Homo sapiens: one gene and its partners. The protein of the gene in region 1 purifies or fractionates together with the protein of each later gene. This does not show direct contact. Each region holds a gene or a part of one and is shown in the gene's direction. Other genes may lie near its edges.

Region 1 (4,133 bases):
GGTCTTACTCTGTCACCCAGGCTGGACTGCAGTGGTGCGATCTAGGCTCACAGCAACCTCCCTCTCCTGGATTCAAGCAATACTCCTGTCTTAGCCCCCTGAGTAACTGGGATTACAGGCATGCACCACCATGTCCAGCTATTTTTTTTTTTTTTTTTTGTATTTTCAGTAGAGATGGAGTTTCACCATGTTGGTCAGGCTGGTCTCGAACTTCTGACCTCAAGTGATCCACCCACCTCTGCCTCCCAAAGTGCTGGAATTACAGACGTGAGCCACCACGCCTGACCTATTTTCAAAAATTTAAGTTTTCTATTTCCCAAAATATAAGTGCCAGGAAGGCAAGGATTTGTCTTTATTTTTGTTCACAGCTGTATTCCCACTACCTCAAATAGATTTTGGCATGCAGTAAATGCTCAAGAAATATTCATTAAACAAATGAATGGCCTTTAGGATGGCCATTTGCCAATAAGTTCATAAATTAGAAATTAAAATGGCCAGGTTAAAAAAAAAAAAAAAAACATTGTTTTTCTCCCCCCAAGTTAAATTAAAAGACCTTGTGACAATTAGTTCTGGCTCAACTAAAGTCTAACTGTGTGACTATAATCAATTTGCTTAACATTCTGCTCCTTCATTTCTCCATCTGGAAAATGGGCATAATAGTACCAGAAACATTCTTCAAAAGCTTTCAAGACTCTCAAAAGAGGCAACAACTATAAAAGCATTAGGTTCAAGATTCAATGCAGATGCTTAGCATTGTTTCATAAAATTAAATAAGGATCTCATTGTCCTTTAACTCACTAAGCTGGCAAAATTTCATTTTTCTGCTTCTGTTCTTATACATACTAAAGACTATACATTAAGCAACTTTCTGTATTTTCATTTCATCCAAAGTATTGTTGATATAAATTTTAATTAACCAATCATTTTCAAACAAAACTGTAATTTCTGACACTTTAAATTTGCCTTCAAAGTCACAAAGTTTTAAAGATAAAAATAGATATACTCAGAAAATCCAACCTGATATTTATTGAGACACGTGAAATGGCATTTTTCCAGGGTAATCATTCCTTCCCCCTCCCAATATGTCAATAACAAACCAGGGTTTTTGTGGTGGAAATTCCATTTATTCTCTTCTCATTTTCTCTTTCGAGCTAAATTCTATTGTAGAGTCTTCCCTTCCAACCTTTAAAAAGCGACCCTGTACCTTTAATAGTGGAGACCTGGTGAGAGGTTCTTTTCCAAACTTGTTCCCTGGCTTCCAAGTGACGAAACCAGCTGTAATTTGAGAGCAGAGAGATCCTCAGGATATCTTTAGCCAAAGGAAAAGCTCCGCATTCCCACCCAGTCCAGAAATTGAAATACTATCAGGGGGCAAGAGCCTTTCTCTCCAGCTACACACTCCATCTCCCGGGAGCAAGGGGAAACTCCGAGAGGAGGGCAACAGAGCCAGCATCTTGCCAGGGCCCCGGAGGAGGGGTTCCCCGCTACGCCTGTGCCGGAGGAGTTCCAGTCACCGAGCGAGGGGCGCAAGGGTGGGTGCATCCTGCGCTGCGGCGGGCGCGCTACCCAGACGCTGGTGTGCAGAGCCACATGAAGCCTGCTGGGGACTGGGGGCCAGGGAGCAGCAAGCCAGCTGGGACTGAGGCGGACGCTGTCTCAGGGAGACGCTGACTCGCAAAGACACTCCCTTCCTTGTGCCTGGGTAAAAAGTCTCCTCCTGGGGTCCCTGGCCATCCTGAATATCCAGAATGGTGTTTCTGAAGTTCTTCTGCATGAGTTTCTTCTGCCACCTGTGTCAAGGCTACTTCGATGGCCCCCTCTACCCAGAGATGTCCAATGGGACTCTGCACCACTACTTCGTGCCCGATGGGGACTATGAGGAGAACGATGACCCCGAGAAGTGCCAGCTGCTCTTCAGGGTGAGTGACCACAGGCGCTGCTCCCAGGGGGAGGGGAGCCAGGTTGGCAGCCTGCTGAGCCTCACCCTGCGGGAGGAGTTCACCGTGCTGGGCCGCCAGGTGGAGGATGCTGGGCGCGTGCTGGAGGGCATCAGCAAAAGCATCTCCTACGACCTAGACGGGGAAGAGAGCTATGGCAAGTACCTGCGGCGGGAGTCCCACCAGATCGGGGATGCCTACTCCAACTCGGACAAATCCCTCACTGAGCTGGAGAGCAAGTTCAAGCAGGGCCAGGAACAGGACAGCCGGCAGGAGAGCAGGCTCAACGAGGACTTTCTGGGAATGCTGGTCCACACCAGGTCCCTGCTGAAGGAGACACTGGACATCTCTGTGGGGCTCAGGGACAAATACGAGCTGCTGGCCCTCACCATTAGGAGCCATGGGACCCGACTAGGTCGGCTGAAAAATGATTATCTTAAAGTATAGGTGGAAGGATACAAATGCTAGAAAGAGGGAATCAAATCAGCCCCGTTTTGGAGGGTGGGGGACAGAAGATGGGGCTACATTTCCCCCATACCTACTATTTTTTTATATCCCGATTTGCACTTTGAGAATACATCTAAGGTCATCTTTCAAAAGAGAAAAATTGGACACTTGAGTGACTTTGTTTTTAGTTTTGTTTTTGTACATTATTTATGTGATTGTTATGGAATTGTCACCTGGAAAGAACAATTTTAAGCAATGTCATTTCTAGATGGGTTTCTAATTCTGCAGAGACACCCGTTTCAGCCACATCTAAAAGAGCACAGTTTATGTGGTGCGGAATTAAACTTCCCCATCCTGCAGATTATGTGGAAATACCCAAAGATAATAGTGCATAGCTCCTTTCAGCCTCTAGCCTTCACTCCTGGGCTCCAAAAGCTATCCCAGTTGCCTGTTTTTCAAATGAGGTTCAAGGTGCTGCTTTGCATGCCTGCCAACCCATGGAAGTTGTTTCTTACTTCTTTTCTCTCTTATTTATTAACCATGGTCTGAGAGTTGTTTTTGTTCTATGTAACAGTATTGCCACAAAACTATAGGCAAATCGTGTTTGCAGGGAGATTTCTGATGCCTCTGTGGGTGTGTGTAAGTTAAAGTGGCCACATTTAAGAAGGCCAAGCTTTGTAGTGGTTGCACAGTCACACTGATATGCTGATTTGCTCTTTCTCATTGTATGTCTATGCTTTGTCATCAGTGCTATAGTAAATTACAAAGAAATAGGTAGATTGTATGAACATACCCACAAATGCCTATGATTTAGGTTACCAATGTATTCTTTCTCATTTGGGGTTTTGCTTCTGTCTGTCTGTTTATTGGAAACTTGTACTTCAAGTAGGGGGAATCCTAATTCTAATAACTCCTTAGCTAAGTTTTATTATTCAGGCAATAAACATGTTTTCATGTAATACTGGCTTACTTTGTAATTTACATCTGTAACTTTCATATTTCTAAAAGGGGCCAATGCAAAAGGAGAGAGAAGGACTGGATTTAAGCCAGTTTACTTAGAGTATATGATAAAGAAGGCAGAGGAATAGCTACATATTTGGCAATTCTCCTCTCTGTAGTCACCCTGACATCCTCACAAGAAAACAAATCTAGCCATTGCCCAAACTTTAAATTTGATCTCTATAGGTCTGCTTAAAGACTCAAATTTTCTCCAGTTTCTCTCATAAATTCAATTGCAAAAGTTTCTGACAAGGCTCATACCCTGTACCCTTATGCAGAGCAAGCATTCCATCCTAAGTTATAAACTACAGTGATGTTTAATTTTGAAGCCAGGTCTACATTATTTAATTAATGGCTTCAAAAGGTGGAGATGCACTTTATTTAATGTCTTTCCCTAGCTAATTCTTACTCTCACCTTAAATATGCTTTCTTGTTGCATATATGCACAGATACACACACACACACACACGAAAATAAATAAATGTTCATATTCTTCTGTTCAACAGACATTTATTTTCTCCTCTCCCTTGAATAAGAAAATAAGTTTTCCATTCCTATGAACTGTCTAATATCTTTCTATTACAGAAGGGGAAACTGAGGCTGGGAAAGGCTAAATGACTTATCCTCCATCAGTTATAACAGCCCCTGGTCTTCTTAAATTTAAACACGGGACTTCCCGAACTAATTTTTTTAAGGATACTGAAAAATGAGAGAGAGTGGTCGAATGCCTGAAATTTTGCTTAACTTACT
Region 2 (4,023 bases), on another chromosome or scaffold:
AAAACATTTCCCCATAGTCTTTTCGCAAAGCCTTCTCCCCACTCCTGCTCACCTCCCCTTTTCCCCCTCCATCCACCCCCCAGAATATTCCCTACTGTCTTTTCACAGTCTTCCCCCCTTCCCACTCGTCCTCTTCTTTGCCCTATCCTGCTTGCCACTCTCTTTTTTGCCTTCCATCTACCCCAAACTATTTTCCCATTTTTTCCCCAACTCTCTTTCCCTGCTCCCTCTCGTCACCCTCTTTCCTCCTCCTCGTTACCCTCTTTCCCCCCACCATCTACCCAAACACTTTTTACCCACTGTCTTTTCTTTCTCCACCGTCTTTCTTTCCTGCCCACTATCTTTTTGCAAAACCTTGTCTTCCTCCCGCTGGCTACCCTTTTCCCTTCCCCCACCTGTTACCCTCTTTTCCCCCTCTATCTACCCAAAACCTTTTCTCCCCACTGTCTTTTCACAAAACCTTCTCTCTCTACTGCTCAACGCTGTTTCTCCCCCCCACCACCCTCTCTTTCCTCCTCCCTTGCCACCCTCTTTTCCTCCTCCATCTACCCATAAACATTTTACCCACCATCTTTCTGCAAAACCTTCCCTCCCTGCCGCTCCCCACCCCGTTTTTCTCCCTCCATCTACCCAAAAACTTTTTTTCCCACTATCTTTTCCCCACCGCCTTTTTGCAACGCGCTCTCCTGCTCACTATCCTCTCTTCCCTTTGGCACTAACCACCCTCTTTACCCCCTCCATCTATCCCAAAACTCTTTTCCTCCTCTTACCGCTTCCGCCGCACTGCCGTCTCGGTCGCGGTTACCACCAGTCGCAGCGAGGCGAGCCACGGTGTAGCGGCTCCAGCCTCCAGCGTACGGCTGGTGATTACCCATTCCTGGTCCTCTAAGCCGGGCACTGAGCAGCTCCACAGGAAAATACGGGAACGTGGAAGAGCCTGACTTCCCTTCAGCAGCAGGCGTATACCGCGGTTATATACAGGAGGATTCCTGACTGCATGTTCTGATTGGATGAGAAAAACCCTCCAGGGTTACTTGGATTGGACTTTATTATCATGTTCTGATTGGATGAGAGCCAGTCTTAAGACAACCAATCACAGCATGAAAATAAAGTCCAATCAGAGTAGGCCTAGAGGTTTTTCTCTCATCCAATCAGAACATGTAGTCTGGGAACCACATGTGCGTAACCTCAGTACGTAAAGCATGCGGAGGTGGCGTCAGGTCATTTCAGGCTCTTAAGTGTGGGCGTTTGGTAACCGGCATGGCTGCTACCTGTTTCTGGCTGGAGCCTCGGACACTGGCTCACTGCAGTTGGTGGTGTCCACAGAGCGGTAGGAGGGCAACTAGTAGCGGGAGCTTCTCCTGCCAGGCAGGAAGACGAGTAGAAGGGAGCAGCACCGACGCATGCTGGAGGCTGGAGCCTGAGCCCCTGGGGCTCGCCTTGCTGTGTTTGGTGGTGACGTGGGACACTGCAGCTCGGCCAGAGTGGTAGAAATGTCCTGGTGTAGGTGAGTTATCCGGGGATGTACTGCCCGCCTGTGGGGGCAGGGGTTGGGTGTCCTATTGGGGCTCACTGCCCGAGGCTGCACTGCCTGTGTCAGGGGGCTGGTTGGGGGCACTCTCCGAGGTTGCATTGCTGGCGGTGGAGGGGGGCGGTTTTGGCTGGCTGTCCGGGGCTACACTGCCCGTGGTGGCGGGGGTGGTGGGGGGGAGGCAGGTTGTGTGCACTAACGTGTACTGCCGGTGGCGGGGGAGGGGTTAGGGGCACTATTTTCTGCTGCACTGCCCGGGGCAGGGAGTGGTTTGGGTGGTTATTTGGAGCTACAATGCTGGCAGCGGGGGGTGGTTTAGGAGTGTTGTCGGGTGCTGCACTGCCCTTACTCAGGGTGCGCTATCAGGAGCTGCGCTACCTGTGGTGGGGTGGGGGCGGCGATTTTGGGGCACTGTCTTGTGCAGCAACACCTGTGGCTGGGTCAGGTTGTGGGCACTATCGGGTGCTACACTGCCTGTGGAAGGGGTGGTTGGGGGGGGGTATTGGGGTTACACTGCCTGCAACTGGCACAGGGTGTGTTGGGTGTGCTGTCCGGGGGCTACACTGCCGGCGGCAGGGGTCAGGTTAGGGTTGCTATGGGGGCTATACTGCCAGTGGTGTTGGTCGGCTGCAGAGGTGGTGGGGACAGCAACAGCCATGGTCTCCTTGCTCCTTCGGGTAACTCTTCTCTTTTCCAGACTCCAGAGTTCCTGCTCGTGCAATCTTGAGCAGGGCAGGGCCCCCACACCCACTGCGGTTCTCCGGCCTGCACCTCCCGCCCACACCCCATGCTCTGTGTTGGGGAGACCACCTGGGACTACCGGGTGGGGATTAGTGGGCATCGCGGGGGACTGTGGGAACAGGGCACTGTGGGTGGAGGTGTCAGGAACGGGAACCAGCAGTTGAGTGGGGAGGGCTGGCTGGGTCTGAGTTTCTCCTACTCCTGCTCCCCAAGGAGTGCAGCCCTGGTGGGCCCAGCAATTTCTGGCCAGTTGCACCTGGATGGGGGTGGTTTCAGCATAGGCACTCACACCCGCCCCAGTTCCTGGCCACCTTTTGCCAGAAAGAGAGGCTGGACTTCGGTGGGTGGGTGTGAGTGCCTTAGCTGAAGCTGGTCCCTGCCACCCAGTGGCCAGCATGACAAGGTGAGGCTCTAACGTTACCACTCCCTGCATCCCATTCTAGGCTTTTCTGGCTTTGCCGGTCTAGCTGCTCCAAGCCAGGCTGGAGGAGGAGGAGAAGGAATCACCTGTGGTACGCTGGAGCCTGCATGTGGCGTGACTCTGCAGCTCGCCTCGTGTGACTGATGGCAGCCACGGAGACTGCAGCTCGACAGGAGTGGTAGGAGGGTGCCCGCGGGGGCAAGGTGGTAGGAACCTTGTAGGGTGGGCTGCTGCATTGACGGCGACAGCAACTGTATTGGCATTGGTGCTAGTGGTGGTAGTGGCAGAAAGTCTGGGGACTGGGAAGGGGGAGTAGGAGCACTGCAGGGCCCAGTCCGACCTGGGGTGGGGAGGAACCTGCTGGTGCTGTACCATGGGCCTCGGTGGCAGTGGTGGAGGTGCACTTAGGGAAAGGAGTCCTCCCCCTTCTCTTGCAATCTCTGGAGGGTGGCCTCCTTCTGAGCCAGGCATGAGTGGCAGCATTGTCTCATTCTTAACAAAATTTAGGGGGTGACTGTGTGTGTGTGTGTGTGTGGCTTTTTTTTTTTTTTTTTTTTTTTTTTTTGAGACAGAGTCTCGCTCTTTTGCCCAGGCTGGAGTGCAGTGGTGCGATCTCGGCTCACTGCAAGCTCTGCTTCCTGGGTTCACCCCATCCTCCTGCCTCAGCCTCCCTAGTAGCTGGGACTACAGGCGCCTGCCACCACGCCCAGCCAATTTTATTTTTGTATTTTTAGTAGAGATGGGGTTTCACAGTGTTGGCCAGGATGGTCTAGATCACCTGACCTCATGATCCGCCCACCTTGGCCTCCCAAAGTGCTAGGATTATAGGCGTGAGCCACCACTCCCGGTCATTTTTTCCTTCTTTTTTGTTGTGATGGTCTTGGACTTTTTCAAATTTTGTGAATTGGGGAGGGGATAAAAGGTGTCATAATAGGCCTTCTAATTCCTGCACCTGTTCTTTTTGCTTTTTCTAGTCTGTGTATTCTTCTCATCTTCTTGTTCCTCTTCATTTTCTTTTGCTGCTGCTTCTATTTCATGTTTCTATTCTTGTTTCTCCTCCTCTTTTTGTTTTCTTTATGCCAAGCAATGGCCTTAACAAACAACAAGCCAAAATTGTCACTGTGTTGTATTTTTAAAATAACTGGTCCTTTACTATGTTTTAGGGATGAGGAAAAAAATCAGTTGTATAATTAGTTACTTGAATAGCTATGCTTTCATGATTGTGTTAAACCACTTATGCCTAGTGTTCCATTATTGGAATGGTAAGCATGAGGGAGTTAATTACATCCTACTGCTCAAGGTCATTAGAAGGTTTGATTTTTCACTCGTG
Region 3 (3,500 bases), on another chromosome or scaffold:
GGAAAGCAGCATACAAGTAGATACAACTGCATGAATTGCTCTAGTTCTTAAACTGGGTAATTTGACTTCGTGTTTTCTATGTGTCTCAACTATTAAATGAGCAAAAATAATAAAAAGAAAATTGATTGCTCATGGAGATTATGCATGTTCTCGAACTACTCCTTTTTTGAGAAATATTTCGATGCACAAAAGAGTTAACATAGTAGCAGGTCTATGACTGCTGTCCTTAGAAAGGACTGCTTGCAAGAGTGACCCTTGGTTGGTATCTGGGAACTTGGATTTCGAGGGGATTCCTACCACTCCCAAAACTAATAGGAGAGGTTCCCTGTGCCTAAACTGTGTGTTCAAACAGTGTGATTTCTATTCAACACTTGCTTTCCTTCTGGGTATCTGGAATTTGGGAACTTGCCAGGCATAAGTTGTCTGTAACCCTGGCCACTGAGTCTTTAATGAGCTTTCCTGGTTGGCAGCATTTTACACGTGTTCGCAACTAATCGCTGGGAGAATTTAATGTGTCATATATGACTTCCTTGGGAGAGGACCCTTGGAAGCTTGTGACTGGTTTCCTCCAGACTTCTCCCAATGTGCCTCTTCCCTCTGCCGGTTTTGTTTTGTAAAGGACACAAAATAAAAAATGATACTCACTATTGTGAGTATCATTATGTGCTAAGTCCACTGAGCCCTTTCAGCCAATTTCTGAGCCTGAGTAAGGATGGTCTTGGAGATCCCCAGAACAACCTGTAATTTAGAGTTTCAGTCTTTGTTATAAAAGCATCAAGCAGGTTGGCAGCTAAACAGTAGTATTTCAATGTATCATTCCAAGTATACTTGTTCTAATACAACTTGGGCAGGGTTGAGGAGTGGACAAAGGGCAGAGGTTTGGTTGCTTGTTGAAAAAGGCAGTCCATTCAGGAATGTATTCTGGAGAAGTTTACAAAGCAAATAATGGAAAGAGGTGTCTTCTGAATTGCATACTAGTTATCATAGTTTTCACTGTTACTAACCAGCATGTGATGGCAATTATGCACATGCCATCATAGAGATTCCCTTTTAAGCTGAGGTATGGTTGGGTGCAAAGGACTGAAGTAAGGATTATGTGGTCGTAGACTGCTTCATTAGTTTTCCCGTGGAGGAAGTGACTGCTTCTCAGGTGGAATTGGATTACCAAATGTCTGTTGTAAAAGTCCTTATCATGTACATGATGTTTCTTCCAGAGATGTGTTACATCAGAATTTTGAGAGTTATAAGCCTGAAGTACAGGAGCTGATTTGTGTGGCTGATCGTTTGGGATCCCTGATGCAATATGAAACACCTGGTTTCCTGCCAAACAAGAGAATACACAGAGGTATTCTGGAAACTACCTGAAAATGAAAATATTCCTGGCATAAGAGGAAGGGTGGTTAAGCCATGTTGTGCATTTTAATAAATTAGTATTTATTGTGCTTATTCAAATTCTCCATGTGATCAGAATAGAAATGTGTAGAATCATTCAAACTGAATTCTGAAAGAAGACTGCTTCCATCCTTGGCTTTTTTGCTATTGCTGTAGTATAAACTAGAATATAGGTCTTAAGTCCTTACTCAAAATCAGACAGCTGATCCAGGGAGCTATTTCCTTACTATAGGAGTGAGGAAGAATGCAAACCTCCACTTGTTTCAGTAGGAGGCAGAGTTGGGAGCAGACAACTTGAGTTGTCTTCAGTTAACTCTGATGGGTTTTAATTTTAGTAGGACCATCATGACTGAAACGTGCCTTGGGTCTTGTTATATCACCAATACTTCTGACCCTTTATGTGTTAACTCTTGAGTTATCACTGAGACTCTGTAAAGTAGGTGGAACTCAGTCCCTCTAAAGTGTACTAACTCTTCTCGATATTCCTTTCTCGTAGCTATGGGTTTGGCCGCATTGGAGGTCATGCAAGCCGTGCAGCGTACATGGACCAACTCGAAAGTTCGAATGAATGGGAAGACACGGTTGATGCAGTGGAGAGACATGTTTGACATTGCAGTTAAATGGAGAAGGTAACTAACATCTCAGTGAAAATAAACTATAAGTCTTATCATTGTCAAATAACGTCAGTCTGTTTTAGCTAACAGGCTATGAACCCTGTTTTGCTTGCTAACACCAGGCCTTCCAAGTTAGGTTTTCCTCTCTAAAGTTTGTTAGAAATTGCTGGCATCTTTATTATTTGACATACACTTAACTAATATTTTCAAAATAGGAATTGATTGGCTGGGCGCAGTGGCTCACGCCTGTAATCCCAGCACTTTGGGAGGCCGAGGCGGGCGGATCACCAAGTCAGGAGATCGAGACCATTCTGGCTAACACGGTGAAACCCCGTCTCTGCTAAAAATACAAAAAATTAGCTGGGCGTGGTGGTGCGCGCCTGTAGTCGCAGCTACTCCGGAGGCTGAGGCAGGAGAATGGCGTGAACCCAGGAGGCGGAGCTTGCAGTGAGCCGAGATCGCGCCACTGCACTCCAGCCTGGGCGACACAGCGAGACTCCATCTCAAAAAACAAAAAAAACGAATTGATTGTTGTCACATTTTCAATCACCTATTTACATGAAGCATTTTAGAAACAGTCTCTTTGAAAGAACAGATCCATTACCTGTGGTACCTCTGAATGAACTTCGCTGGACCAGTCCCTTTACAGATAATGGTGTGCCTGGCAACTAGCTAGTTTAGAGTAACCTTTGATATTCATTTGCGTGACAAAAACTGTCCTCTGCTCCTAAACCTTTACCTTTACCTGGCTTTTCGCCTGGTCCAGCTGGAACATCTGTTTGGAATTTGTAGGTATGGACATCACGTTTTTAGATATGATGGACTAGCTGTTGCTTTATCCCCACCTTTGCAAACACTTCTACATGTTTTATTTGGAATGCTTCTGAACACTTCTGGTTTTATAAAGGTCTCTGTTTTATAGGATTGCTGACCCAGACCAGCCCGTGCTGTGGTTAGATCAAATGCCAGCACGAAGTCTTAGCAGAGGTTTTAACAACCACATTAATTTAATCAGGTACGAACCTTTTGTGCATCTTTCTTCTTTTCCTAGGAGTTTATTCTCAAGACACAGGCCATGGAGACCAGGAGTGACCCATTGCTCCTTTCCTGGTGACTTTTTGACCAGGGAACATACTGATTGACTCTGCACCTGTGGAGTCCTGCCTGCATTCCTTTCCTCTAGCCCAGCTGCAGAAAGAAACATAGCGCATGCCATACTCCTTCCCCAGGCCCTTCTGTCTGGTGTAGAGCACAACCGAAGGGTAGATTGCAGATGTTTTCCTAGGGCGTCAGTCTTTAAGGAGTCTTAAAATATAGAAAATTATTAGATGGAGAACATTACAGTAACCATAATATTCTTTTGATAGTACATGGCTCAAATAAATTATTTGACAAGTCTCTCGTGGTGGAGTCTCTCACGGTGGGCGGCTCCCCATTCCACCCCAACACACAAAGGGCTTAGATAAATAACACTATCTGGTAACTAAGCTGCCA
Region 4 (3,500 bases), on another chromosome or scaffold:
GTGTGTGTGTGTGATGGTGTGTGTGTGGGGGGGTGCGGTGGCGCTGCCTGTGGTTGTTATGAGAATTCAGTGAGATAGCCTCTACCCTGCAATGGTAGCTGCTATTGCATTCTTTCCCAATGAAAGGGTCTCTTTCTGTTCTGTTGTTTCTCTTACTGTAAATACAGTACCCTTTGTGACTCATGAGATTGGGCAGGGAGATAAAACGGACCTCAGCTCACCTTAGCTCATTCAACGATCTTTTTTTTCCCCTTTTTTTCTTTTTTTTTTAATTTCTTTGAGTTGGAGTCTTGCTCTGTTGCCCAGGCTGGAGTGCAGTGGTGCGATCTCGGCTCACTGCAACCTCTGCCTCCTGGGTTCAAGCGATTCTCCTGCCTCAGCCTCCCTAGTAGCTGGGATTACAGGCGCCTGCTACCACGCTCAGCTAATTTTCGTATTTTTAGTGAAGACAGGGCTTCACCATATTGGTCAGGCTGGTCTCAAACTCCTGACCTCAGGTGATCTGCCCTCTTCAGCCTCCCAAATTTCTGGGATTATAGGCGTGGGCCATTGTGCCCGGCCCAGGGCTTTTTTATTTAAAAAAAATTTTAATGCCATAATCCCTTCCATTATTGACATTTTTTACTTTTTGTGTAACTCTGAAGGTTTTGCAATATGGGTAGTTTGGAATTTATTTTATAATCTTGAAATATTATCAGTTGACATATGTTGTCATGACGAGAAAGATTGTGTTGGTCAAAGCTATTATTGGTTGTTTCTTTTTAAACACGAGCCACTTAAGGAAGCAAGTGGCTGAAGCCATGATTGTTAGCTTCCACTGGCACTTTGCATTTTTCTTTCTTTTCTTTTTTCTCTTCTCTCCTCTTCTCTTCTCTTTTCTTCTTTTTTTTGAGACAGAGTTTCACTCTTGTTGCCCAGGCTGGAGTGCAGTGGCATGATCTTGCCTCACTGCAACCTTCGCCTCCCAGGTTCAAGAGATTCTCCTGCCTCAGCCTCCTGAGTAGCTGGGATTACAGGTGCGCACCACCATGCCCGGTTAATTTTTTGTATTTTTAGTAGAGATGGGGTTTCAACATGTTGGGCAGGCTGCTCTCGAAACTCTTGACCTCAGGTGATCCACCTGCCTCGGCCTCCCAAAGTGCTGGGATTACGGGGGTGAGCCCACCATGCCCAGACCTGCATTTTACTTTCATTGTGAGTTATTTTTGACATAAACATAAATTTCATTTTCGTCACTCCTACACAATGCAGGCATTGGCAGTTTGTTGAAGGGCAGTTCTGTATGGTGATAGATACTGTCTGTATACAAAGATGAAAACTGTTTTTATAAATATTTCTGATTGCTCTTATTTTCTTGTTCTTGTGGAAAGTGAGAATGTAGCCAAATAGTCATAAACAAAACCAAGCCCCTAATCTCTTTTAAAATTTTGATATTATATCTTTGTTTTTATAGTGTGAATATTATCTCTAAAGGGTATAAAACTTTTAGATCATGAGCTAATCAGTATAACCAGATTCGTTAGTACAAATTTGTCATAAACTATCTGGAATGCAAATACCCTACTTAGAATAAAACACAAAATTCTGGAACAGGGAATATAAAAAATAATCAAAGCTTACATCTCTTTTTTTTTCCGAGATGAAGTCTTGCTCTGTCTCCCAGGCTGGAGTGCAATGGCGCGATCTCGGCTCACTGCAACATCTGCCTACTGGGTTCAAGGGATTCTTCTGCCTCAGCCTCCCAAGTGGCTGGGATTACAGGCGTGCGCCACCACGCCCAGCTAATTTTTTTGTATCTTTAGTAGAGATGGCATTTGACCATGTTGGCCAGGCTGGTCTCGAACTCCTGACCTCATGATCCGCCCTCCTCGGCCTCCCAAGGTGCTGGGATTACAGGCATGAGCCACTGTGCCTGGCCAAAGCTTACATCTCTTTAATAACTTATGTCAAGCTTTCACAGGGGTCTGTTCTTTTTGCCTAACATGAGTTGAATCGGGCTATGAATTCAATTAACACCTTTTAATACTAGATCAATTAAAAGCATAAATTGGGCCCTTGTATAAATACAGATTGACTTTTATTTTTAGAAAAAGAATCAGTAATTATGAGATTTGTATTTATATGATCTGTTTAGATTTATCATATGATGTTTATAATAAAATTAAAAGCATGGCCTAAATTTGCAGTGAAGAAAAAAAAGAAGAGCCACACATACAAAGCAAAATGATTTTGTTTTTATTATAAATCACATGGAAACATTTCTTGAAAGAATTAGAGCCTTCGACATCACAGGTCAAGTGATTATACTGTTTCTGAGTCAATGAATAATGTGATACCTGCATTATTATTAATAATAGAAATTTCAGAACCATAGTATGTGCTGCATATGGATTGTGTTTGTTCTGTTTCTAATAGCTAGAAACCAGTGCCTGAAAGAAACTCCAATTAAAATACCAGTAAATTCAACAGGAACAGACAAGTTAATGACAGGTGTCATTAGCCCTGAGAGGCGGTAAGTGTTTGGTTTTTTTAGACTCTAATCTTTAGTATATGTAACCAGATTTCCTTTTTCATGTATTAATAGACCTGATTAAGGTAAATCATCACATAGATTCTGTTGGAGAGTAGGAATATCTGTTTATGTGTGGATGACCTGTGGCCATTCCTGGACCTGTAGCCACTGCCTTCCTCATGGGGTAGAATCATGAAACTGATCAGCAGTAGGACGGCACCTTAAGTACAACAGGCTGGGAAGACAGTGGTCCTCACCCCAGCCAACTAGTTACCTCTCTGAGGCCCATCTTACCCTTCTCTTCTGCCAGTAAAATACAGATATCCTCTAACAGATTGTAGTCCTCCCAAATCGTAAAGATACTGTTGTTTCAAAGAAAATCCTCTGTATGAAAAGTTCTGCAGCATAGGTAACTCTTCAAGTTGCTATTCTTTTATAGCAATTTCTTAAAGGCATTGTCTATTTTCAAGACAATTGGAGAATTAGAATGTGGACAGGGTATTAGATGATATTATGGAATTATTATTAATTTATTGATGAAGAAACTGAGGAGATCAGGAATAAAATGATTTATCAAAGCTATATAGTACAAAGCTGGAGCCAGAACCCAGGTCTTCTCATTCCTAATCTTATGGTTTTTCTCCCACAGTCTGGAAGTGCTGGAGAACTACCTAGAAAGCCAACTAACACCACAGTAGTTTCTATTGAAAAATGCATTCAGGTTCCAAAATATTTACATAACTGACCATTTTTAGAACATTATCCGTTAGTATTTGGTAACTGCTTAGCTTCTCAATAATGTGTATATATGTGGTTGAACTAGTTTCCTTAATTTTATTTAACATTTTTCAGTGCAATGGTACTATGGTTTTTTTAAATCTCAGTGTCAGTGCTTGAAATACTTAACTATCTCCAACCAGAAAAATTTCAGAACAAAAGGATAAAATATGCCTAATAAACAGCCATATGTAACGTAAACTTCTCAGCA
Region 5 (3,731 bases), on another chromosome or scaffold:
TGGGAAGCCGAGGCGGGCAGATCACAAGGTCAGGAGATCGAGACTATCCTGGCTAACATGGTGAAACCCCGTCTCTACTAAAAATACAAAAAAATCAGCCGGGTGTGGTGGCGGGCACCTGTAGTCCCAGCTACTCGGGAGGCTGAGGCAGGAGAATGGCGTGAAGCCGGGAGGCGGAGCTTGCAGTGAGCCGAGATCGCGCCACTGCACTCCAGCCTGGGTGACAGAGCGAGACTCCATCTCAAAAAAAAAAAAAAAAAAAAAAGAGTTGGGGAGCCAGATCCCAAGCCTGATCAGCTCACCCCCAACCCCAGGCGGGATTATCGACCCACCTGGAAACTGAACCAGACGGAGCCCGTGGCAGGAAACTACTATCCAGTCAACACCCGGATTTACATCACGGTAGCTCTCCCCCATCCTGCACCTCCCCACCTCGATAGAAAGGGAATCACCCCTTATCTGCAGCATCTCAAAGCTGCCTGGGGTTGGGGTTGACTGCCCTCTACTTTCACCCTTCAACTCCCAGGATGGAAACATGCAGCTGACTGTGCTGACTGACCGCTCCCAGGGGGGCAGCAGCCTGAGAGATGGCTCGCTGGAGCTCATGGTGAGTGGGTCAGAGCCCCATCCGAGCCAGGGTCCTCCCAACCTGGACCCCTGCTGGACCTTGAAGGCTGTTTCTGGCCCAGTTCTCTGCTTTCAGGCCCCACTAAGCTGAGGACTCCGTTTCTTTCTTTTCTTCTCTTTGAGACGGAGTTTTGCTCTTGTTGTCCAAGCTGGAGTGCAATAGTACTATCTCAGCTCACTGCAACCTCTGCCTCCTGGGTTCAAGTGATTGTCCTGCCTCAGCCTTCCGAGTAGCTGGGCTTACAGGCACACACCATCACGCCCGGCTAATTTTGGTATTTTTAGTAGAGATGGGGTTTCACCATGTTGGCCAGGCTGGTCTCGAACTCCTTACCTCAGGTGATCCACTCACCTCGGCCTCCCAAAGTGCTGGGATTACAGGCGTGAACCACCGCTCCCGGCCAAGGACTCCATTTCTGTGTGTGGCTTTTCCTCTCCGTTTTTCTCCATCTCCTGCCCAGGCTCCCTCCACGCTCTGGCGTGCCATATCCAGGCCCCCCTGTTAGGCATTTACCTCCTTCCGGCCTGGTTCCCATGCCTACTTGGATCCTGCCTCTGCTGGGGTTGCCCTACCAGACCCTCACCTTCATCCTCATCCGTTCCTCCCACCCTTTAATTTCTTTTGACATTCCCACACGCCCTTACCCAGTTTCTGGCCCAAGGACACCCACAAACCCACGACTCTCACCCCCTCCTGGCCACTCTCCCCCCAGGTGCACCGAAGGCTGCTGAAGGACGATGGACGCGGAGTATCGGAGCCACTAATGGAGAACGGGTCGGGGGCGTGGGTGCGAGGGCGCCACCTGGTGCTGCTGGACACAGCCCAGGCTGCAGCCGCCGGACACCGGCTCCTGGCGGAGCAGGAGGTCCTGGCCCCTCAGGTGGTGCTGGCCCCGGGTGGCGGCGCCGCCTACAATCTCGGGGCTCCTCCGCGCACGCAGGTGAGGGGCAGCGGGGTAGGCAGAGAGGACCGGATTGAAGTCTACCAGGGAGCCGGGTTTGGGTGCGGAGTTTCCTAGGCTCAGCGGGGATCCATTTGGCCATAATTAGCCCCAAACCCTCGGGCCAACCCCATCCCCTGGGCAGTCCCCGCCCAGTGCCAGCCCAGTCCCAACCCCCCTGGACTGTGTAGAGGCACAGCCCTAGCTCATGCCCCTAAACCACCAACTCACCTCCGGCCCCGCCCATTTCACTTTAGCCCCGCCCTCTCACCGCCCCCAGGCTCTGTCCTGCCTCACCCAGCCCCGCGGCTTCAGCCCCGCCGTAACTCCCAAAGTCTCAGGTCACATCAGTTCTGCTCCATCGGGACTCGAACCCTAAGCTTGGGACCGACCCATCTCCCCATTGGCTCAGTCCTCCCTGTCACGGCCCTGGCCGCTCCTCTCGGCTGAGCCTTGCCCCTCTCCGGCGAAACCCCGCCCCTACAACCTAGCCCTGCCTCCTGACCTGGCTCGGCCCCGCCCTTCTCCATCCAGGCCCCGCCCCTCTCCAACTCAGCCCCGCCCTCTCTCCCGCAGTTCTCAGGGCTGCGCAGGGACCTGCCGCCCTCGGTGCACCTGCTCACGCTGGCCAGCTGGGGCCCCGAAATGGTGCTGCTGCGCTTGGAGCACCAGTTTGCCGTAGGAGAGGATTCCGGACGTAACCTGAGCGCCCCCGTTACCTTGAACTTGAGGGTGAGAAGGGCAAAATTGAGAAGGAGATCGGAGAGAGGCAAGAGAGAGGGAGAGAAGAGAAACCTGGCTTTGCCCCAACTCATCTGGGCCCATCCCCTTCCCCGCAGGACCTGTTCTCCACCTTCACCATCACCCGCCTGCAGGAGACCACGCTGGTGGCCAACCAGCTCCGCGAGGCAGCCTCCAGGCTCAAGTGGACAACAAACACAGGTGGGGCCCTGGTCAGGGGTAGGGAAGGGGTGGAGTCTTACCTGGGGCCGGCAGGTGGGGGCAATGTGTGAGGCATGGGATGTTGGCCAGGACCCAAAAAGGTCATGAGGGTATGGGGCAGAGTCCAGACCCAGGTTAGGGGCTTAAAGGATCTGAAATGGGTGCGGCAAACCAGGAATGGGTCTTGAGGTTTGTGGGTGCTGTTTAGTCCCAAGAACAAGATTTGAAAATCCCCATCCATGTCTAGTTCTGGGAGGGTGTTCATCACCCCTGGGGTCAGATTGAGGGTACGAGGACAGTGGCCAGATTGAGGGTATGAGGACATTGGACCTGGGGGTGGTATTCGGGGCCGGGGAAGCAGGTTAAGAGTCTGGGATTGAGGCCCTGGAGACAGATTCGGGGATATGCAGCTGTGTCTAGACCCAGGGGAGGAAGCATCGTGGGGTGAGTCAGAGGAAGTCTGCACCTCCTCACTCCTCCTTCCCCCTGCACCTCTCCAGGCCCCACACCCCACCAAACTCCGTACCAGCTGGACCCGGCCAACATCACGCTGGAACCCATGGAAATCCGCACTTTCCTGGCCTCAGTTCAATGGAAGGAGGTGGATGGTTAGGTCTGCTGGGATGGGCCCTCCAAGCCCAAGCCTCCTGCTCCGGGGGCAGACCAGACTCTGACTCTCCTCTTGGGGCTGCTGCCATTAAAACGCTACTACTAAGACTCAGGTCGCTCTGTGACTGAGTGTGGGTTTTTTTTGTCTGTTATTTGCTTGTTAGAGGGGGACAGAATTTATGACCCAGAGCCGGGTGTGGTGGCTTGCTCCTGTAATCCTAACAACTCTGGAGGCTGAGGAGAGAGAATCACTTGAGCCCAGGAGATCTAGACTAGCCTGGGCCACAAAATGAGGCCCTGTATGTACAAAAAATTTAAAAAATTAGCTGGGTGAAGTGTCTGTATTCCCAACTACTTGGGAGAATTGCTTGAGCACAGGAGGTCAAGGCTGCAGTAAGTGATAATCACACCACTGCACTCCAGCCTGGGCAAGAGAGCCAGATCCTATCTCTTCGTGTGTGTGTGTGTGTGTGTGAGGGACAGAGTCTCCCTCTGTCGCCTAGGCTGGAGTGCAGTGGCGCAATCTTGGCTCACTGCAACCTCCGCCTTCCGGGTTCTAGCGATTCTCTTGCCTCAGCCTTCCGAGTAGCTGGGACTACAGGCGCCCCCCAC
Region 6 (3,500 bases), on another chromosome or scaffold:
TGCCTGGATGGTAGCAGCAGATGGCACCAGGGCTCAACATACAGAAGCTTCTGTTTGGGAGACCAGGAGGCTTCATAAGACCAACAGGGAGTGCTGTTTGCTGGCTGGCATGTGGATAGTGCCAGGCACCTTGCTGACATTCCCTACTAGCTTGGGCTTGTTATCCCCATTTTACAGGTATCAAAACTGAGGCTGAGCCAGGCATGGGCCTGTAATCCCAGCTACTTGGGAGACTGAGGCAGAAGGATCTCTTGAACTCAGGAGTTTGAATCCAGCCTGGGCCACATAGCAAGACCCTATCTCTTAAAAAATAAAAATTTAAAAAAAGAGACTTAAAGGAACTAACTAGACCCTTGAAAAATTCACTAGCAGCAAGTAGACTTGGGGGGAAACAAAACAAAACAAAACAAAAAAACCTGAGGCTGAGAGAGGTTGACTGGCTTGTCCATGGTTGTCTGCTGGGGAAACAAGCCCTCTCTTCCCATCTTCCTCATCTGACTGACTCTGAAGCCTGTCTCTCAATTGCCCCACATGTGTATATGTCAAATCGTGTGGCTCCCTTACTTCACTTCGATGTCTTTTACAGGATTCCTACAATAGTCATGTCTTAAAAGCAGAAATTTCGGTGTGGCTTGGGGAAAAAAGATTATAAAGTGGACGTAGCTTGTTGCCAATGGAATCTTCACAGCAAAGCATTCCACTAGAGCCCATACTTACGTCCTTCCTCTTGGTCAGTCCCATGTGCCCAGCACTGGCACCCTCTGTGAACAGACCTTGGGTTGGGCACAGTCACCCAGAAGTAAAGCAGAAAGGAGAGGGAGGCAGACATGGAAACAATCAGTGCATTTGGTGCACGAATAAGTGCTACAAGCTTGTTCTCAGCTTTTCCAACACACCCTGCTCCATTCTGCCCCTTCGCATATACTCTTCTCTGCCAACACCTCTCCTCCTTGCTTTGCTGACTCCAGCTTATCCTTCGGATCTCAGCTTGGTTGTTACTTCTTCAGCAAGCCCTCCCCATATAGGTTAACTATCTCTGCTTTGCTGCCCCAGACATAGTATTTATTCTCTACTGTAGTTGCCTAGCTATTTGTCTGTCTGCCCTGCTAGAGGGTAAGCGCCACAGAGGCAGGGATCATGGCTATTTTCTCACCATTATATCATGAGTATCTGGAACAGGGCCCGGCACATAGAAATAACTCAAACATAAGTGAATGAAGAAGTCGGTTGAACAAGGGAGAGGGCCACATATGGGGCTGATGGCACAGATGAGCAATCTGACCTCTCTCCTCTCTTGTGTTGGTCTTTCAGCTGTGGTCGCCAGGACCCCCCCAGAGCCAAGACCTTCTCCAGAAGGTGACCCTTCCCCCCCACCACCACCAATGTCAGCCCTGGTCCCCGACACTCCCCCGGACACCCCTCCTGCCATGAAGAATGCCACTAGCTCTAAGCAGCTCCCACTGGAACCAGAGAGCCCCTCAGGGCAGGTCGGGCCTAGGCCAGCCCCCCCGCAGGAAGAGTCCCCTTCCTCTGAAGCAAAGAGCAGAGGACCCACCCCACCAGCCATGGGCCCACGGGATGCCAGACCTCCTCGAAGGAGCAGCCAGCCATCTCCAACAGCAGTGCCAGCCTCCGACAGCCCTCCCACCAAGCAAGGTGTGTGTAATGACCCCGGCCTGGGCCTAAACCTCTTGGCTCAGGGTCCTGGCCCTGGATCATGCCAACTGAAAGAGTCCTGTTTGCCCTAGAGGAGATAAAGAAAGGATGGGGTGAGGCCCGGAGGGAGGGATCTGAGGCTGACTCCTCTTTGGGGACAGCCTTTTGACCTGTCTGTTCTTGTTCCCTCTGCTCAGAGGTGAAGAAGGCAGGAGAGAGACACAAGCTGGCAAAGGAGCGGCGAGAAGAGCGGGCCAAGTACCTGGGTGAGTGAGCAGGAAGCCTCATCATCTTCTTCATCGTCATCATCAGCATCCTATTAATAACACCAACAGGCTGGGGCGCAGTGGCTCACGCCTGTAATCCCAGCACTTTGGGAGGCCGAGGCGGGCGAATCACCTGAGGTCAGGAGTTTGAGACTAGCCTGACCAATGTGGAGAAACCCTGTCTCTACTAAAAATACAAAAAATTAGCCAGGCATGGTGGCACATCCCTGTAATCCCAGCTACTCGGGAGACTGAGATAGGAGAACTGCTTGAACCTGGGAGGCGGAGGTTGTGGTGAGCCGAGATTGTGCCATTGCACTCCAGTCTGGGCAACAAGAGCAAAACTCCGTCTCAAAAAAAAAAAAAAAAAAAAAAAACCAACACTTCTGCAACACTTAATTATGTGCACTGTGCTAAGAGCAGGACACACATCTAATTTAATCCTCAACCCATTTTGAGGAGGAAACAGAGGCTCAGAGAGATGAAATCATTTGCTTAAGCCACACAGCTAGTAGAGTAGCTGACATTCAGACCCAGAAGCCTCCTGCCACCCCAAATCCCATGCTCTTAATCACAGTATGTGGACATCTGTCTGGTAGGCCCCCCAGGTCAGATGGGGATCTTGCACTCAAGCATTCATTTCTCCTTCAGCCCTGAGAGCCCATAAGGCCAATGGAGGAGAAATAGGCCTCTCCTGAGTCCTGTCTTCAGTAAGCCTCTCAATTTGAGGGGGTTGTCTCAGACTGAAAGCTCCACCTAAGCAGGCGGGAGAAAGACCCACCCAGGGCATGGGTAGCAGGGCTGGCCACTTGGAGGAAATGTCCTTGGCCCAGGCCTTCTGCAGAACCCTTCACACACGCCACTGGGCTCCTTTGTCCACAGCGGCCAAGAAGGCAGTGTGGCTGGAGAAGGAGGAGAAGGCCAAGGCGCTGCGGGAGAAGCAGCTCCAGGAGCGCCGGCGCCGGCTGGAGGAGCAACGTCTTAAAGCCGAGCAACGCCGTGCAGCCCTGGAGGAACGGCAGCGGCAGAAGCTCGAGAAAAACAAGGTGCGGGATGGGTCTCCGTGAATCCATGTACACGTGTGCTCACCGTCTGCATACTGGTGCAGTGTGTACACACATCCATGTTCACGGCTCTGCCTTATCTGTGTCTATGTGGTCCTATTTGTGTTCACATCTACAGTTGTGTCCCTGTGTTAGAATATCTGGGCACCTGTACAACTGCAGGCACATTTGCTTCTGAATGTGCCACTGTAGGCCCCTGTAACTGTTTACTGTCAGTACCTGTGTTCGTACATGTACCCCATGTGTCTGTATGTATGCAGGTATGCATCTGTGTGAGCGTGCCTAGCTCTGTGACATGGGTAAAGCCCTAGCTTGAGTGCTGGTGAGGAAATGAAGGAAATGGCCACCTGGCCCTACCTGGGAGGGCCTCAGGCTAGAGGGAACACATAGCCCCAAGGTCAGGACCCTCAGTGCCTGAGATGTGGCCTTGCCTGGGAGCCCCAGGTAGGGGGAGTCCACCCAATCCTCAGAGAATCAACTCATGCACTCAGGAAATGACTCAGGAACAGTGAAA
Region 7 (3,500 bases), about 15 Mb from region 1:
AAGTGCAGCTCTCTGAAGGCAGAGGGTGGTAAAGGACAATAAGATCAAGCTCTTGTGCTTGATGGTACAAGCTGTTTATGTGTAACCCACTGTCAAGTTCCCTCTAGTCAGCATAGCCCTTTGAACAATCCAGTTTACTTTGCTGAACTGGAGGGAATAAGCGGTAATAATAATAAGAGCTAAAATAACATAGCACCTAGGATATGTCAGGCCCTATTCTAAACACTTTACATATATTGACTTATTTAATCTTCACAACCTTATGAAGTAGGTAATATTTGCTCCATTTTACAGATATGGAAACTGAGGCAGGGAGAGGGTATATGATTTGTCCAGGGTCACACACTGGTATATGATAGTATAGGGATGTAAGCTCAGCTAGTGTGGCTTCAGAAGTCTAAGTTCTTACCCACGTACTAAACTGTCTCCCAGGAGGGCCCCAGGGTCCCTTGGAGTCTGTTGACAGTGGTGGAAGTGGGTGTCAGAGGATGGCTGAGGGGTGAGGGAGTCAGCAGCCTTCCCACTTGGAAACTCCATAGATAAACTCAGGTTTTGCTTTGTTTCATGCCAAGAGGCAGAGGTTCCAGTCCTTTAACTAATGTTTACTGAACATGCAGGACAGTCCCTGGCACATTCTGCAGAAAGTAGCTGTGGGGTGGAAGCGTGGATGAATGGATGAGTGCTGATGCCTATGGCCACGTTGGTTATTAATGAAAGTGTTACCACTCTCCAAAAAAGGTGTTTTGCTTTGGAGTCTTGTCCAGGCTCCTCTTTTTGTTAGAAGGAAAGTCTCCTTGAAGCTGCAAATGTCACAAAATGTTCTGCAGGATGTTCCATAGGACTTGCAATTAGAAGAGGCTTTGGAGCATCACCCCAGAGGTCTGTTCTAGTCATGACTGAAAAGTTTATTTTCGTCTTGGGAGTTGCAGTGATATTTCATTTTAATTTGTTTTCTGATTGAATGATTTAATTAGATGGTGTTTGGGAATCTCTTGGGAATGTAAATTGCAGTTTTGGGAAGTTTTTTGACCAAATAGACGTTAAATGAGAGGGTGGATAACTTATGAGTTTTTAAAAAAAGCATCCTGGGGGTTTAGAAACACAAAGTAAATGTTAGTAAGGGTCAGGTTCTCTCCATCTTAGGAGTAGAAAGATCTGATGGCTTGACACGGTGAGGCGGATGAAGCAAGAATCTGCTAAAGGAGTTCTCAGTGTTGGAGAGTGCAGGAAATGGAAATGTTGATTCAGTTCTTATTTTGGAAATTCAGTAAAAATAAAGATAGCTTTCTTCTTTTCTTAGTAGCTTTCTGAATATGGAAAAGAATGTGCCAATGTTTAAGAAAATATTTAAAAATGCATAAAATTGCCCATAATTCATTCTACCCTAAAAATCAGTTTGCATTTTGAGCATTTCCTTCTGGATTTGTTCATTTGCCTCCATATTTCAAAATGAAGGTGTAGTCATGATTTACATGTAATTTTATATTCTGCTTTGTTCACTTTCTTTTTGTTAACGAAGCACTATTTTTTCCATATTTGCTACATAGTTTATTGGTTTAACATTTATCTGTTGGAGACCTAATGTGTGCCAGACACTGCACTGAGAAAGTGATTACAGTGGTGAACTGTATACTAGAGACACTCTACAGGAGTATGGGCACTCTTGGTCCTTGTCATAGCGGACTTGTTTTCAAAGGACAAAGAATCCCTTTTAGTCAACGTGGTCAGGGCTTGAGTTAGTTAATAGAAAAATTGGTTAAAGAGGAGAGTACAACAAAGTATTACATACATACAATTAAATATTTTTATTTTAATGTTTTCCAAAATGTACATTCATTTGCTAGACTTTTGATATCAGGCCAAAGTTCTGTCTTTGGGATGCATCTGCCAATTGGCGTCCTGTTCATCTTCCTTGCACAAACCACTCCCATAATATCCCATAGTTCTGTTTTCTTTAAAATTCATTGGAAACTTAAAGGTGCTTATGAAGCAGTCTCAGTGTAGTAGCCTAAATTGTTACGATTTTTGTCTGATCTTTTGCAATGATTTTGCTCACATGTAATTTGATTGCTATTCTTTAACTGACTACCGTTTATAAAACCTTTGCAAAGCACTTAGAACTTAAAGTAATTTTCTTAGAAACAACACTCATCTTTTTAGCCGTCATATTTCATTGGTTTATATAATACGTGATTAGGTTATGCCGTTACAGTGACAAGTACAAATAGTGTAAACACGTTTGAGAACAAACCCAGTGGACCACTGGTAAGTGTAAAACTCAACTATTTGCAGGAGCTGTGGGCAGTGGTACTAGAGACAAATAGGGTTTGTTACAGAGGGAATGGCAAGCATAGTTAATCTGGAGAATTGATTAAATGGAGAGTTTCTAAAGAGAACTTTTACTGTATTTTTAATGACTGCATAGTATTCTGTCATCAGTATACTATTATTGATTCAACCACTTTCCTATTATTGGACATTTGTTTTGCTATTATAATTAGAGCAGAAATGAACATCTTCACCTCACTGTTTTTTGAATTATGTTTAAGGATGTCTTTCCAGAAGTGGGATTAGTACTGACTCAAAGAGTCTGAACATTTTTATGAAAGATTGTTTTTTCAGAAGGAAAGGCTTTCTTTACAGCCACCAACAGTGTCTTATTGTACCAAAGTCATGGAGCCTGGCCAGCATTGGGTGTTATCATTCAAATTTTTCCGAGTAAATGTAATCCCTGTCAAATGCTCTATTCTTTTGATTTGTACTCCTTTGATTACTCTAGAACTTAATATCCTCCCCCACCCCTGGTATTTGTTTTATCTTGTGGGACTATTTGTGTCCTTGCTTATTGTTCTCTAAGACTATCAGTGTTTGGCCAGGCGTGGTGGCTTATACCTATAATCCCAGCACTTTAGGAGGCCAAGGTGGGAGGATCACTTGAGCCCAGGAGTTCAAGACCAACCTGGACAACATGGTGAGACCCCCATCTCTACAAAGAAAAAAAGAAGAAGAAGAAGAAGAAAAAAAGACTCAGTGTTTGTGATTTGTGTATTTTACAAATTTTTTTGATACATAAATATTTTGCCTGTATTATATGTTACATACATAATTTTAATTTTACATAGATGCCTTAGGGCAGTGGTTTTCAAACTGTGTACCCAGGAGACCTAAACTTGTAGAAGGTTTGATCTGGGGCCTGAGAATTAAAAGGGTTAAGTGGGGTCTCCCAGACTCTGCCTGTAGGTGCTCCCTCCCCTCCCTGCAAACAACAAAACTCCACTGTCTTCTGTTTTCTATTTGGCATTCTATAAAATATTTCATTTTATAAAAAGTTGTACTTCTTTAAAAAAAAAGTTGAAAATAACTGTTTCAGGAAAAGAGGAAAGATCAGACTGTTACATTTTTGTGAGGGATGATGGTGGTATAAACAAATTCAGGAGAGTAAATAAATCTAAAAGGAAATTGAATTTCTGGGTGGTGTTCTTGTAACATCTATTTACCCT

The links.
Region 2: the proteins of FIBIN (region 1) and POTEE purify together in Homo sapiens (affinity purification with mass spectrometry; one large-scale study listed by BioGRID and IntAct). This does not show direct contact.
Region 3: the proteins of FIBIN (region 1) and TTC13 purify together in Homo sapiens (affinity purification with mass spectrometry; one large-scale study listed by BioGRID and IntAct). This does not show direct contact.
Region 4: the proteins of FIBIN (region 1) and MELK purify together in Homo sapiens (affinity purification with mass spectrometry; one large-scale study listed by BioGRID and IntAct). This does not show direct contact.
Region 5: the proteins of FIBIN (region 1) and MAN2B1 purify together in Homo sapiens (affinity purification with mass spectrometry; one large-scale study listed by BioGRID and IntAct). This does not show direct contact.
Region 6: the proteins of FIBIN (region 1) and MAP7D1 purify together in Homo sapiens (affinity purification with mass spectrometry; one large-scale study listed by BioGRID and IntAct). This does not show direct contact.
Region 7: the proteins of FIBIN (region 1) and GALNT18 purify together in Homo sapiens (affinity purification with mass spectrometry; one large-scale study listed by BioGRID and IntAct). This does not show direct contact.

Annotation. Positions count from the first base shown.
Region 1 is NC_000011.10:26,992,779-26,996,911, forward strand, and holds the start of FIBIN (fin bud initiation factor homolog precursor), read left to right. Parts: upstream 1-1,333; 5' UTR 1,334-1,748; coding exon 1,749-2,384; 3' UTR 2,385-4,133.
Region 2 is NC_000002.12:131,208,313-131,212,335, forward strand, and holds the start of POTEE (POTE ankyrin domain family member E), read left to right. Parts: upstream 1-1,223; 5' UTR 1,224-1,507; intron 1,508-2,715; 5' UTR 2,716-2,871; intron 2,872-4,023.
Region 3 is NC_000001.11:230,923,362-230,926,861, reverse strand, and holds part of TTC13 (tetratricopeptide repeat protein 13 isoform a precursor), read left to right. Parts: intron 1-1,214; coding exon 1,215-1,345; intron 1,346-1,888; coding exon 1,889-2,021; intron 2,022-2,928; coding exon 2,929-3,021; intron 3,022-3,500.
Region 4 is NC_000009.12:36,666,895-36,670,394, forward strand, and holds part of MELK (maternal embryonic leucine zipper kinase), read left to right. Parts: intron 1-2,415; coding exon 2,416-2,512; intron 2,513-3,500. UniProt on the Homo sapiens protein: Serine/threonine-protein kinase involved in various processes such as cell cycle regulation, self-renewal of stem cells, apoptosis and splicing regulation. Has a broad substrate specificity; phosphorylates BCL2L14, CDC25B, MAP3K5/ASK1 and ZNF622.
Region 5 is NC_000019.10:12,646,012-12,649,742, reverse strand, and holds the end of MAN2B1 (lysosomal alpha-mannosidase isoform 1 precursor), read left to right. Parts: intron 1-314; coding exon 315-402; intron 403-526; coding exon 527-607; intron 608-1,340; coding exon 1,341-1,568; intron 1,569-2,144; coding exon 2,145-2,300; intron 2,301-2,407; coding exon 2,408-2,510; intron 2,511-3,010; coding exon 3,011-3,123; 3' UTR 3,124-3,231; downstream 3,232-3,731. UniProt on the Homo sapiens protein: Necessary for the catabolism of N-linked carbohydrates released during glycoprotein turnover. Cleaves all known types of alpha-mannosidic linkages.
Region 6 is NC_000001.11:36,169,660-36,173,159, forward strand, and holds part of MAP7D1 (MAP7 domain-containing protein 1), read left to right. Parts: intron 1-1,311; coding exon 1,312-1,656; intron 1,657-1,853; coding exon 1,854-1,922; intron 1,923-2,804; coding exon 2,805-2,968; intron 2,969-3,500. UniProt on the Homo sapiens protein: Microtubule-stabilizing protein involved in the control of cell motility and neurite outgrowth. Facilitate microtubule stabilization through the maintenance of acetylated stable microtubules.
Region 7 is NC_000011.10:11,615,506-11,619,005, reverse strand, and holds part of GALNT18 (polypeptide N-acetylgalactosaminyltransferase 18), read left to right. Parts: intron 1-3,500. UniProt on the Homo sapiens protein: Catalyzes the initial reaction in O-linked oligosaccharide biosynthesis, the transfer of an N-acetyl-D-galactosamine (GalNAc) residue from UDP-GalNAc to a serine or threonine residue on the protein receptor.